Linked DNA regions of Homo sapiens: region 2 is reported to be linked to region 1. Evidence: microRNA targets listed by miRTarBase, many of them from high-throughput screens and not tested one by one. Region 1 holds a microRNA gene; the other region holds the end of a gene's coding sequence.
Evidence for each region. Region 1 holds the annotated microRNA hsa-miR-609 (AGGGUGUUUCUCUCAUCUCU, at 4,892-4,911, opposite strand). A microRNA usually pairs through its seed, bases 2 to 8, with sites in the 3' UTR of a target mRNA and lowers its output. Matches are read on the target gene's strand: a 7mer-m8 pairs with bases 2 to 8, a 7mer-A1 pairs with bases 2 to 7 and ends in A, and an 8mer does both.

Region 1 (7,123 bases):
AAATAAAATTTTAGAAAATTAGATCATGTTGGAAAAAGCTCTCAGAGAACTTAATATTTTAAATAAATTAATTGGGAAACAAGTCATAGAGAATTCTTTTGAAATGCAAACAACCACTCCAAGGTAATCACGCATGTAGAAAGATGTTATAACAAGATAAGCTGAACGTATGTGTGTGTATGTGTGTGTATGCATATATATGTATGTATAAAGCCACTTAATTCATCAAATTGACCCAATCACATTACACGAATGCAAACAAAGACCACCATGTTGCTACTGTTGTAACAAAGGCTCCTACCTTGCTCTGAAACAATGCTCCTGGTTACTTCTTTCAATGGTCCACACGCTCACTGTACTTGGACTTGATAAGCACAGCTGGCGCCAGTTCATGGGGTTAAAAGACATTTGGTTCACATCCATTCCAGGCTGTGATTTCTTACACAAAATGATACTCGATTCCCAGTTCCTTAGAGAAAAATAGCATTTGATGAAAAAAAGTTCATTTGAATTTCATGTATTTAGAACATTTATCTATTTTTTAATTTACATAAATTGGGATATAATTTATGATACAATTTATATAATCAATGACCTTAATGTCAAATTTATAAATAATTATGCTTATCATTGTATTGTATCCTAAGAAAGCAAAAAAACTATGTTTTAAAAACACTATACTGTCATATGCTATACCAAGGCTATTTTATCTTCTTTAATAATTTTGCAATTTAACTCAGCCAAACCTAGAAAATGAAATATATCATCACATTTGCTACAAAACAAGTGTAAGTGCCTGAATCTGTAAGTACTACATGTGAGTACTCCATATGGATCTGGGGGTACTGTTCTCATCGATGCCAATTGATCATTTATTGAGTTTTTAAAATTAAAGTGGTGCCAGGCGCGGTGGCTCACGCCTGTAATCCCAGCACTTTGGGAGGCCAAAGCGGGTGGATCACGAGGTCAGGAGTTCAAGACCAGCCTGGCCAATATGGTGAAACCTGTCTCTACTAAAAATACAAAAATTAGCTGGGTATGGTGGCACACGCCTGTAATCCCAGCTACTTGGGAGGCTGAGGCAGGAGCATCGCTTGAACCTGGGAGGCGGAGGTTGCAGTGAGCCAAGATTGTGCCACTGCACTCCAGCCTGGGCAACAGAGCAAGACTCCATCTCAAAAATAAATAAATAAATAAATAAATAAATAAATAAATAAATAAAGTGGTGTATTTTAAAATGGATTTATTCATTTACCCATTTAAGAGAATATCCTGAACTCCTACCATGAACAAAGTCCCTTGCTAGATGAAGGAAAAGAAAAAAATTAAATGTGAGCTATGCCCTCAAATGAGGGGCCAGAACTCCATTCAGAGTTGTGATTAGGAAACTGGAGCTAATATTGATTGAGCTTAGCTTGCCTTTCACTCCCTCCTGCCCTCATCCTTCATTCCCTATCACAAATGCCCTGCCCAACACATCAACCACACTCTTGCTGGAATCTCTGGTTCCCTTGATCCTTTGACTTTTTGCATCAGGTACCTGGCAAAGACCGTCATCCCTGGATGGAGACAACTGAAAGCCTGGGCTGCTAGAGACATGGGAACAAAGACTACAGGACTGTGCATGGCAGTGACACCATAAACTTGTGGTTGCCACCCCCCACCAGACCCTCAATAGGATCTCCAATCCTGCTATGTTTCTCTGGCCAGTTCTCTCTCTCTCATTCTCTAAAATGGGCATTTAAAATATTCTCCCCTCTCCCGAAACCTCTAGCCCCTCTACTCCCTTCTCAATCTCAGTAAATGGCTTTGATTCCCATGAATAAAATAGAGGCCATCAGCTGAGAATTCTTGCTCTCAAGTATAACTACCCATTTGGGTCTGCATGGTTCTCTCCGCCTCCTCTCCCCTTACAATGGAAGGTGTGTCCTTCCTCCTACCTAAGGCCAATTCCACCACCTGTGCTCTGGGTCCCACAGTCTTGCCTTCTTAGGGACATTGGTTTACTCAGGATAACTGCATCTTCCAACTCTCCCTCTAGCCTGACTTCTTCCTGCCAACACACAAGTGCTCATCCATACCATCCTCAAAAGAAGCCTTCCCTCAGTCTTACCTTTCTATGTCTCTCCCCTCTCCTCAGAGTCAAACTTTTTGAGCAAGTTGTTCTAAAGTCACCGCCATGGCTTCCTCAGCTACACTTTCCTCATCCCAGGATACCTGCATCCTGTCACCACCATTCCATTGACATAGCTATATCCACAGATACCTGCCTTCATCCTAAATCCAAAAGGCACTTCTCAGTCATTGCCTAACTTTACCTCTGCAGAACTGGGCACTGTTCACCACAACCACCTTCTGGAATCACTCTTAGACTCTCTGTCACACACCTCTTATGGGACACCACAGATCCTCTCTATTGTGTCTGGGCCCTTGACCCCGTCTTCTGCCTCGCTGACTCAGTGGCTGTCCAACTGTGTGTGCACTTTGACTAACTTCATGTAGGCACACCCCACCTGTGCCTCGCCTCACACCCACTTCACACGCCCAGTGGCTTCACTGGGGCTTCACTGGGGCTCCTGGGGACAATCACGACAAACCTGAAAGTGTGAAGGAATTACCACCCTGTGCAGTGAAGCTTCAATCGATGGGATACAGGAGTTGGTGGATAAATTCTCATCTCCTCCTCTCCCCTTCCCCACCCACAGTCTGTCACTGCCTGAGGACTGTCCTGATTCATAGCAGTTCATAGAACCTCTCAGAAGACCACCTTCGAGATAGAGTAACCAGTTGCACTCGGTACCAAGTGGTGGCCAGCAAGGTAATACGCCCTCATACTGGCTCTCCTGCCCTGGGATCACACACCCTGCTAAAGATGGGATGCATGAGCTCTTGCCTCAGCCTCTGCTTTCCAAGGAACCAGGCTGAGGCACATTCTGGAACCCTCCCTGCCTAGTGTCCTTCCTCCTTTCATAGCTACTCCTATGAGTCTCCTAGGTGGGTCCCTTCCATTGATATTCCTCAAGGTTCCACCCTAGGCTCTTCTTGAGGTGTTCTTACTTACATTTCACACTTTGGCTATCCATTGACTTAATTATTCCCAAATGTTTATCTCCAGCCCTCTCTCCTGAGCACCAGTCCTGGATATCTGTGGCAAGGGCATGTGTCCCTCAGCATTTATTCTCCATTTCTCCCTCTGAGTAACAGAACCCCCTGAATATTAGCCAGGCACATATGGCCACTCACAATGAGGACCTAATATTACCTAGCCACCCTTGAAGCTGGCTGTGGCTTATGGCCGAGCCAGTCAATGAATGTTAGTGGCAGTCATGTGTGCACCTTCCAAGCCTTGCATTTTTTTCTTTCTTTCTTTTTCTTTTCTTTTCTTTCTTTCTTTCTTTTTCTTTCTTTTTGAAATATCATTACTTTAGTGTTCCAGGCATTTTAAATATTCATACAATTTCCTTATTTCAGCAGTCATTTCCTCTCCAGTATAGATTTTGTGTCCAGGATCAGAGCCATGTACATCACTGAATTTTCTCTACAGCACTCGCATGCTACATAGGACCCACTCCGGCACCCATGTCTTTGCTAGTAGAGCCTCTCACCACACCCGCAAGAGGGCTGGACCTTCCGTTGCTTGACATGGCCTCCACTGCGAATGAAAACACACTTTGTAGCTTCGATCCCGGTACATTTCCAGCACTCCCAGGTGTTCCATGTATGTGGCAATCATCCTGCAGAGCTAGTGATACATCAGGTCAGCTGGTACCTATGCCAGCACCTGCTCCACTGTATCATACAGATGCTGAGGCACTTAAGTGTTCTGGGTAAAATGGAGTTCATAATTGCCATAGGAGTTGAGTGTGGAGGAAGGGGACTTTCTCTCAATAATTAATACCCTTAATACAAATTTAGCAGATTTATAATTTCAGGTCTGTTTACATTTGTTGTCAAAGCTTCATAAACTATTTACATAAATGAAAGCATGTTCGAGTTTCTAAATGTTGCTATGACAAGCAAACAGAGAAACTGCTTAGACAACACTTGCTTGCGCCGTAAATACATATGGCAACACCTGGTCATTCTTAAAGAAATGCTTGTGTTTCCAAGGCCGGGCGCAGTGGCTCACGCCTGTAATCCCAGCACTTTGGGAGGCTGAGGCGGGCGGCTCATGAGGTCAGGAGATTGAGACCATCCTGGCTAACACGGTGAAACCCCGTCTCTACTAAAAATACAAAAAATTAGCTGGGCGTGGTGGCGGGTGCCTGTAGTCCCAGCTACTCGGGAGGCTGAGGCAGGAGAATGGCGTGAACCCGGGAGGCAGAGGTTGCAGTGAGCCGAGATCGCACCACTGCACTCCAGCTTGGGTGACAGAGTGAGACTGTGTCTCAAAAAAAAAAAAAAAAAAAAAAAGGAAAGAAATGCTTGTGTTTCCAAAAAGAATTTTTTTTCAAGTCATAAGCCTTATGCAATTCTTCCAAGGTAATAATGTGTTTGTCCTTCCTTCTCAAGCAGTGGTTCAAGGCATCTCAAGGCACATTGCTCTCTGAGGTTCTGATTTAACTGGCCGAGGGGAGAGGGGAAGAGTGGGCACTAACATTTTTTAAAAGCTTCACAAGTCATTCCAGCATGTAGTCAGTGTTGAGAACCTTGGTACTAAAGGCTCTTGCATCTTCCTACTGTCACTTGTCCTCACCAAAAGCCCTTGAGGTAGTCCCTGGGTCAGGCAATGATCTCTTTCATGCAAGCCCTGCATTTCAACAGAAGGTTTGTGCCCTTCCCCTCATCCTTTTCCCTCCCCATTGGCTCCCAAAATACACCGGTGGTTTAGGGTTCCTCTGCTGTTCCTAGGGTGTTGCCCTCATCTCTACTATTTAACCCATTATAGACCAGAGATGAGAGAAACACCCTAGGAACAGCCGAGCAGCATGACAGCGGGAGACTGGACGCTGACCCCGAGGAGCCACCACACCAACCACAGCTGCTCGTGCCCAGACAACTGCATGTGACAGAAGGAAACACATGTTGGTGATTTGGGTTTCTGTGACCACAAATGAACCTAAGTCCTAACTGATATATCAGCTGCCAACTAGACATCTCCGTTTGTTCATCTCAAGCACTCTCAGTTCAGTTTGTCCCCCAGCTCATCTTCCCCCATTGCCTCCCCTAAATTCCCTGCCCCCAAGCCCTCAGTATCTCTCTGAATAGCATCAGAGTGTCCCTAAGTTGCCCAAGTCACACGCAACTCTGGATATAACCCTAGACCCATCCCTCTTCCTCAGCACGACACCCAATATTTAGTCAGTTACAAGTCTCATGATGCTACCTCCTAAACACCTCCCAAATAGTTTCACTTCCCTCCATCCCTACTCCCACCCTAGTCCATGACACAGTCATCTCTCACCTGGACCACCACAGCCTCCTAATTGATGTTCATGCCTTGTTTCCTTCCAATATACCTTCCACAGTACGAAAGTATTGGAGATACTTTCATTGGAAATAATTGGCTGAAAGGAATCTTCTTAAATGCAGATATAATTGTGTCACTTCCCTGCTTAAAACCCTTTAGTAGCTCCCCACTGCCTTTAGGATAAAGAATTTGTCCATTAGCCTAGCTTATATGGAGTGTGAGTATCCTTCCCAGTATGCCTAGGAGAAACCCAGTTTAGGCTAAAGTGCCCTGCATTCATCAGCAACACCCTCTTTCACTCTCAAAAGCATCCTGATTTGGATGATAAACCACATGGTCACCTACATATAGGGCTGCTCATAAGCTCACCTCTGACTGTCCCTCCAAGCTTGCCTCTCTCATGGCAAATCTCTTGTTCCCGTTATCATGACCTTTTCATTGAAACCTGCTGTGCTTTTTCTACTTCATGGCCTTTGCACATGCCATTCCTCTGCCTAGGATGTTCTTTCTTCTCGTCACAAGGCTGATTCCTGTTCATCCTTTAGGTATTGCTATGGGTTGAACTGTGCCTCCCCCAAATTCCCGTGTTAATATCCTAACCCCCAGCACCTCAGAATGTGACCTTATTTGGAAATATGATCTTTACAGAGGGTAATCAAGTTAAAATGAAGTCATTAGGATGGGCCCTAATCCAATAAGTCTGGTGTTCTTATATAAAGGGAACATTTGGAGACAGACACACACAGGGAGAATGCCATGTGAAAATAAAAGCAGAGATCTGGGTGATGTGTCTGTAAGCCAAGGACTGCCAGCAAACAAGTGAGCAGAAGTTGGTGAGAGGCGCGGGGGCAGATTCTCTCTCACAGCCCTCAGTAGGAACCAACCCTGCTGAGACCTTGATCTCAGAATTCTAGTCTCCAGAACTGGGAGGCAATATACGCATGCTGTTTAAGCCACCCAGTCTGTGGTACTTTGCTATGGCAGGCCTAGCTAATTAATAGAAGTATCTGTTTAAACATTACCTCTCCTTCCAGGAAGCCTTCCCTGACCATTCCCCTCCACCAACAGACTATGTGAGATGCCCCTACTACAGGTTCCCATTGTGCCTTAGATCAATGAAAGCTATAAAAGAGCTTAGAAACCAAATGAGTTTAAAGCCCACTCAGCAACTCACCAACTATATAAGTTTAGGCAAGTAGCTATAAGAACAAAAAAAAAATGAAACTTGGAAAAAAGAAAAATTGTGTTGGCTTGATTTCTCATATCATGCTGGGAAGCATTTTCCAGCAAGCCTCCTCGAACAAAAACCAGACTTTGTACCTTGCTTTGCCCCATATCTGACACTCCTGGGGAATGTAACTTTGTTGTCATAATACATACTAACAGCCTCGATGTGATAAAGGCAGGCATGCTTTTACAGGTTAAACTCTAGAACATGTTCAATGCTATGATTGTATGCCCTGGTAGAACAGTTAAGTTTAAGGTCCTAAGGTTTTAGAGACCTCTGGAAAGATAATCATTCACATATCTAACCTAGAAATTTTATGTAACCACTACTTTTTCTAACTCTATATGAGTGAGCGTGTGTGTGTGTGTGTGTGTGTGTGTGTGTGTGTGTGTGTGTTTGAGACGGAGTCTCGCTCTGTCACCCAGGCTGGAGTGCAGTGGCATGACCTTGGCTCACTGCAACCTCTGCTTCCCAGGTTCAAGTGA
Region 2 (7,122 bases), not on the chromosome of region 1:
AGGGCATGTATATCTAATTCCCAGAACCTAGCACAGGGCCTGACACATGACAGGAATTTAACATATGCCTGCTGAACAAATGGATGGAAAAATGATGCATGAGTGAATACAGGAAAGAGCAAATGAACTGGTAAATGCTTACATTAATGCATTAATGAATAAGTGAGTGAAGTTGTGAGTTAGTGCATATATAAGGTAATAAATAAATGAGTGGATGAATGAATGATAAAAATAAGTAAGTGAATGAAAGGTGCCCATGCCAGTGAGGCAGGAAAGGATGAGTGAATTCCCACCTCTGTGTCTTGCTTCAACCCCACCAGGAAGACCTCTTGCCCTGCTTTCCTGTTATCTAAACTGCACACCAGTGTTAACCTTTTAGATTCCAAGGAACAAAGACACACACAGGTTAGTGATGGGGATTTATTAAAGCATTCACAGGGAAATAAGGAAGACAAGAACAGCTACACAGGCAGCCTCATGGAAGAACAGAAACTTGAAAATGGTTCATGATCCAAAGCAGCTCTAGAGCCTGGCTTATCTTGTCACCCCCTCAGCTGCAGGCATCTGTTGCTCCCTTCTCTAGTGCTTCCCAAATTGGTGACTCAACTCCTTTCTGGCTGTATTTATACTCCTCCTACTGCTACTGACTAACTTCTTTCTGCCCCCCTCGATGCTAGCCCATGGCTTTTTCTGCCTCATGGGTCCTGCAGCTTCATGGCTCCCGGCGCTTCAGTTCCTATTAATCCATGGCTTTTCTGCATTGTAGCTCCTGCTGCCTCTTCCATTCCTGTTGCCATGTTGCCACATGGTTCTGGCTACCTTGTGGTTCTTGCAGTCTCATCGCTTCTACTGTCTCATGATCTTATCTATTCAAGCCTTCTGCTGCTTTGTGGATCTCATAGTCAGTTTTGTCTCACGGTTTCTGTTCCTCGTGGCTCCTATTGCTTCATGGCTTCTAGCCCATTGTTGCCTTGCTGCTTCATGGCTTCTGCCACCCTGTGGCTCCGTGATCTCATTATACAAATGTCTCATGACCTCTGCTTACTTATGGTTTCTGCAGCTTTCTCTTTGCTTTTGCTGTTTAGTTTCTGGCCACCCCTCATCCACCACCACTAATGCCTCATTAAATTCTAATTAACGTTCACTTCTTCTGAATAGCTCACATTCTGCCTCCCTGAAAGATCTGGTTGTTTCATACATTTGCCATTTGATACATGCCACCCCTGTAAGGTGAAGTCCTTATGCCAGTCCAGCTAACAGGCCACTGGCCAGCCTAGAGATTGGTTGCCCTTGAACCAGACACTATCCACATCTAGCTATCTGTGGCCAGGATTGTGAGGTCACATGGTACAGAGCATGGCAACTTATGCTAAGGAAACCCCTTAGAAGGGACTGCAAGCATGGCAGGTTTGCTAAGGGTTTCCAGAAGGGGGCAGTGTAATTGGCAACCATCTTGTTTGACCTGTCCAATACATTGACCTTCAAGGTTCAACCTAAGTCCCACCTTCTCCCTGACCACCTCTGCCTGTCCTGATCTACAATGGGATAGATCAAGATCAAGACTCCAGAGATGACATAGAAAGGAAACCTAGCTTCCATTTCTGGCTCCAACACTTCCTAGCAGTCGGACCTTAGGAAGTTAATTCCCCTCTGAGGACCTCAGAAGGGGTTTGGGCAGTCTTCCCTTACAAGTCTGACATTCTGGGTATCTCACTATAAGTTATTGTATAAGAGATGTGACTCTTACCTGGGAAAGCCCTCAAAAACATCTCTTGAGGTAGGAAAGAGGGAGTCAGAGTCCTGGCTTGGAAGAGCCTTACTGCACACTGGAGGTGCTTAGCCAAGATTTATTGAACTGGATGAATGAATCAATGGCTTGTGGAGGGGTGGGGAGTGGGGGGGCAGTGAGAGACCACACAGCACACAGAATGTCTAACTAACTTGAGGAATTCCAGTTGCTGAGGAGGATGTAAGCAGATTGTTTCAGAGATGGATAAGGAAAGAGATGACTGGGACAGGGTAGGAATCATGGCTATTCATGGGTACTCATTCTATCCTCTCAGTCACCCTCCACATCCAATAATCAGTCATTAAGTTATCATCTTACCTTAACAGTTCACACCTTAACACCTCCAATCTATTCCTACTGGCCTTTGCCCTAGTGCAGGCCTCCTGGTCTTTTTCCAGTCTCCTAGCTAATCTTGTCATCTCCATTCGCTCTCTCACAAATGGATTCACTCATGCATTCATTCATTCAAAAACTTTACTGGGTGCCTGTTTTGTGTCAGGCACTGTGCTTTTTTGCAGGGGCTATACTGGTAAGCAAAATATCCCCAGGCCCACCCTTGTGGTGCCTAAAGCTTATTCAGAGACAAAATAAGCAAATATAGTAGTGTAAGAAGCTGATTAACAGGGAAGCTACAGGCACGGGCACATACAGCATGAACATCTAACCTAATCTGTTTTCCATGCTGGTTGGCTAGCCAGCCAGAAACAGGTTAAGTTCACATCTGATCTGGAGTCCCCCTATTAAAAACCATTTCATGGCTCCCTCACTGCCTTCAAGCTATGGTTTCCAAATCTGGCTGTACCCTAGTCATGTGGTAACCTTTATAAGCATTCAAGATTCCAAATCTTCACCCCAGACTTAATGAATGTTTTAGGGGCCGGGGCCCAGAATGCCGTACCTGTTTGTGGTATACAGCCAGTTTGGGAACCACACTGTCCTACAAAACAAATCTGAATTCTGTAGCCATGCATTTACGACCCTCTTCCAATCTGGTTCCTCTCTACCTTTTCTTGCTGCTTTCCCCCCACCCCAGGAATCTTCATGCTTCAGTATTTGTTTTGCTGTTTCTTGCCTTCATGTCTTCATGCATACTGTTTCCAATATCTGGAAATTCCTTCTACTTCCTCAACTGGCTAATTCCTACCCGTCCCTCAAGACTCAGTTCAGGTATCACCACCTAGACTACAGGATGCCTTCTCTGAATCTTCACATAAGCTAGATGTTTTTCCTGTGCTCCTGTCAGTGTTGATCACACTGTATGGTTAATGGCTGTTTTACAAATGGTTTCCCCAACTAAACAGTGAGCTCCTCAAAGGCAGGATAAAGATTTGACTCATCTTTGTGTTCCTGGTGCACAACACTGTGATTTCCAGAGGGAAGTGCCCAGTTAAACTTAAGATACTGTTGTGGAGTACTCTTCAACTCCCTACAGCAAGGCTACTGCGTCCACAGTATAAGGGAGTCAAACTAGTTCCTCCAACAAGCCCTAGGGAATCTACTCGGATCCAGCTTGCTCTTGGAAACACTGTGGTGCCCAGCCTCCCGTGAGCATAGCCTTGACAACGGTTGCCCTGTGATGCCAGGAGGTGGTGGGGCACGACAGGAGAGAGCAGGGGGCAAGCACTAAATAGATCCGAGTGGAAGTCTAGGCTCTGCCACTAAACCAGTGGAATCTTGGACAAGTCACCTCACCTCCTGGATCCTCAGGACTTAAGTCCCCAAAGCTCCTTTGTAGCACATGTGTTCCTGTGTGCCAGGGCCTTAGCCTAAGGCATCTCATGTAATCCTTTTTATCCTGTGAGGTAGGGGTTAGTTATCTGGGTTATTATCCATGCTGGCTGAATCAGATTTCCAGAGGTGGGACCAGAGCAATTTATTTTTAAAGAGCTCCACATCCTTTGGATGTGGGGGTGCAAGCAGGGAACTGCTGCTTCTCATTATAAGCCCTTCTGTACTATTTTATTTTTTTACCTGTGTATATATTGCTTTACTTTTTAAAAAGGAAAAAGAAAAAGCTTTACAAACGATTCTGATGCGCAGCCAAGGTTGATAACCACCTGTACAGTGGAGAAAGCACTTGAATGACTTGGAAGACCTGGGTTCAAACCTTTTTGGGCCTCAGTTTCCTTATCTGTAAAGTGGGGAGAACAGCAAAGGTGACCTTTAAAGGGCTGTGAATGATCTAGATGCCAGCCAAATTGCTTCATATATATTTAATTTTCTCTTTGCTTCACTACTGCAAGGTAGGTGTTTATTATCTCCTTTTACAGATGTGGAAACTTAGGCTCAGAGGTGAAGTAACTTGCACAAGTTTCTACAGCTAGAATTTGAACCAGGTCTGACCCCCGAATTGTGCTCGTCCATAAAGGCCAGCATTTGCCAAATTATGGCACACAGTACCACCAGTGGTACGTGACTTCTTTGGTTGAAAACAGACAAATTTATTTTGTTTTGATAGTTATGTCTTTTAATATGTATTAGAAGAATACATAATTAGCACACATCAAACCTGTGATTTCACAGATATCACTACTTGGGATGAAAATGATATAGGATAACAATGTTAGACCTCAGATCAACCTCAAGAAAAATACTGAGTAAATAGTACAGGAGGGCAATTTGGAAGTATTATTAAAAACCAATATATAAATATCCTATGACTTTGCAATTCCACTTCTAGGAATCAACCCTAGGTAAACTTTCATACATATACTTTCACACAGGCATAGTGATGCTCCTGTGTAGTATTTTGTAATAGCAAAACCTAAAAACAGTCTTAATGTCCATCACAAAAGAAATGCGTAAGTAAAATGTGGTAATCATATGATGACAATCTATACAGCAATTACAGAAGATGGATTGAGCTACATTAAGTAACATGCACAGATCTCAAAAACATCGTTAAGCAAAGAAAACAAATTGCTAAACAATTCAATATATCATTTGCATTAAACACACAATATTTCCAATGAGTTCACATATGTACGTACAAGCATTAAAACAAAGTCTAAACGGAAGTACAACAAACAACAGCCACTAAGAAGGGAAGGATCAAGGAGTGGTTGGTAGCTGAATGAGACTATCTTTAACAATCTAACTTCTCAAAAGGAGAATGAATTCATGCATATTTGGGTAATTAGAATGGACTTAACTTTTAAAAAGCAATATACAGATTGGAATTAAAGTGTGATGGTGTATGTGAATGAGTAAAGGCTGAGCTCATCGCACCCGGCTTTGCTGCCTCTGCATGATCCTTATAGCTAATGAGGTTAGTTCCTAAAATGAACCTCACAGGTGTTAGGCTGGGATGTGGCCCAGGATACCTCTCCCCTATTTCCTCACAACCCAGATTGGGGCTCAGGCACCCGGTTACCAGACATGATTGAAGCTACAGGTTTCCTCAGGCCCTCCGCTTACCAGGTAGACCCCATCAGTGCCCTGAAACTTTCCCAGTCAGCAGGGCATTCAGCACCTTCCAGATTTGGAGGCTTCTTCTGTCCCTAATAGCTGGGATCAGAAGCTCTCAGGGGTCCAGGCATGAGGGTTATATTCTGAGGGGTCGGCACCTAGTGGGCTCCACGAAGGGATAAGGCCTCCAGTGAGGAGCTTGACATCATTAAATCCTATGAGGTAGGTAATATTGTTAGCCCCATTTTACAGATGAGGAAACTGAGGCACAGAAGGTCAAATGACTTGCCCAAGGTCAAACAACTAGTAAGTGATAAAAAGTGGGACCAGAACCCATAACTGTCTGTCCCCAGAGCTCATGCTCCACTCCTAGTGCCTGACCAAATCCTACCAATTTGTCAAGGTCTAGCTTAAATGTGACCTCCAGGAAGCCTAGAGGGGATCACCCACTTCTCAAATTCAAAGTACATATGACATTCAGCTAACTATAGTCATTCATGAACCCACTGTATCTCCTTACTAGGAGGGTAGAGATCATGTCTGATTCAACTCTGTATTCCAAGCACAGAGCCTGACAAATAGAGGGTGTTCGGTATGTGTCTGATGAATACATAAATGAATGAATACACAAATGAGTGAATGAAGGCAGTTTCAGGTAACTGCCTAAGACTCCTATGAGGTCCTGAGTACCTTTGCCCAGCTCAGGGGTGCTGTCATCCTAAGCTCTCTTGGAATCAAATTCAGCCTAGGCTCCTTCTAAAACAGGTCTCCAATATCCTTTATTATTTTGCAAACATACTCACATGCACACATGCGGATACATACATACACACATACATACCCACACACACAGTGGGCAAGAGGCCCAAGGGGCCCACGATTATGGGTGATGAGGGGGAGGAAGGGGGTGTGTGTGATGAACAGATGGCCCTGTTCAGCTCAGCACCTCCTTTCAGAGGCCAGAATACTCCCTGTCGTTCAGGAATTTTTGCTCCAGACCTAACATCACCTCTGTTCCTCTTCATGCTTGATTAGCAGTGCCTAAATCCCATGACTACACCAAAAAGGGCCAGGAGGTAGGGGGAAGGTTGGGAGTCAAATATCCAGAGATTGGGAGAGGGACAGCTTAGGGATCCAGACAGGGCGGGAGGGCAAAAATACTGCTACTGCTCATTGGGGTTGGGGTTGGCATCTGGGTACTTGGTGAGGTCGAAGGTCAGGACTTTGCTGATCACACAGTCCCCTTGCTGAAGGAGGAGGGAGAAAAAGAAAAATAAAATTGTAAGGAGAGAATTAAGAGGGGTCTAGTGCCCCAGGACCAGGGGCCTCAAACCCTCCTCCCTACATACCTGCCCAAAGCCCAGTCAATGGTTCTCTCTGGGTGTGAGAGGATATGCTCAGTCCCATGTGCCTTCGCTCCTTGCCTACTTCTGTACTCTCCTCCTTTCTCCACTGTCTGGCTGCCTCTGCCTGCCTTTCCACCTGTCCCCAAATGCAATGGCCCTGCCTGGCTGGGCTGGCTAAGCCTCCAGAGGCAGGGCTCCAACAAGCCCAAATGGCCATTCAGGACCTGATTCCCTATGCTCCCCCACCTCCTTTCCCCTCCACTGCAGCCTTCCTTTCCTGCCCTGGGAAATCAGGCAGGGAGTAGGACTGGCTCCTGAGCCAGGCCCGCCCTACCTCAGGATAGACTCCAATGAGGCTCTCGGCCTTGGTGTAGAACTCCTCCTTGAGAGAGATGACGATGGCCTGGAAGTTGCAAGTCGACTGCTCCTTGATGTAATTTGCCACCTGTGGGAAAGGCCGCCAGGCACTTAGCAAGGCTCAAACCTTAACAGTCCCCAGTATTTTCCAGCCACAACCAGAAGGCAGAAGAGGTAGGGTAGGGAGAGGAAGGTGGGGAAAAGAGAGGTTGAGAGGAGACT

Region 2: miRTarBase lists SMC1A as a target of hsa-miR-609. Seed matches in the 3' UTR shown: 7mer-m8 at 5,781-5,787.

Annotation. Positions count from the first base shown.
Region 1 is chr10:104,213,958-104,221,080 of GRCh38, forward strand. It overlaps MIR609 (microRNA 609), which reads right to left and starts at 4,926; the gene lies at 4,832-4,926. It overlaps CFAP43 (cilia and flagella associated protein 43), which reads right to left. Exons shown (of 38, transcript NM_025145.7): 4 at 302-469.
Region 2 is chrX:53,373,743-53,380,864 of GRCh38, forward strand. It overlaps SMC1A (structural maintenance of chromosomes 1A), which reads right to left. Exons shown (of 25, transcript NM_006306.4): 24 at 6,878-6,988; 25 at 407-6,444. The coding sequence ends at 6,361. Among named protein-coding and RNA genes, the nearest start is that of MIR6857, 28 kb to the right of the region's middle.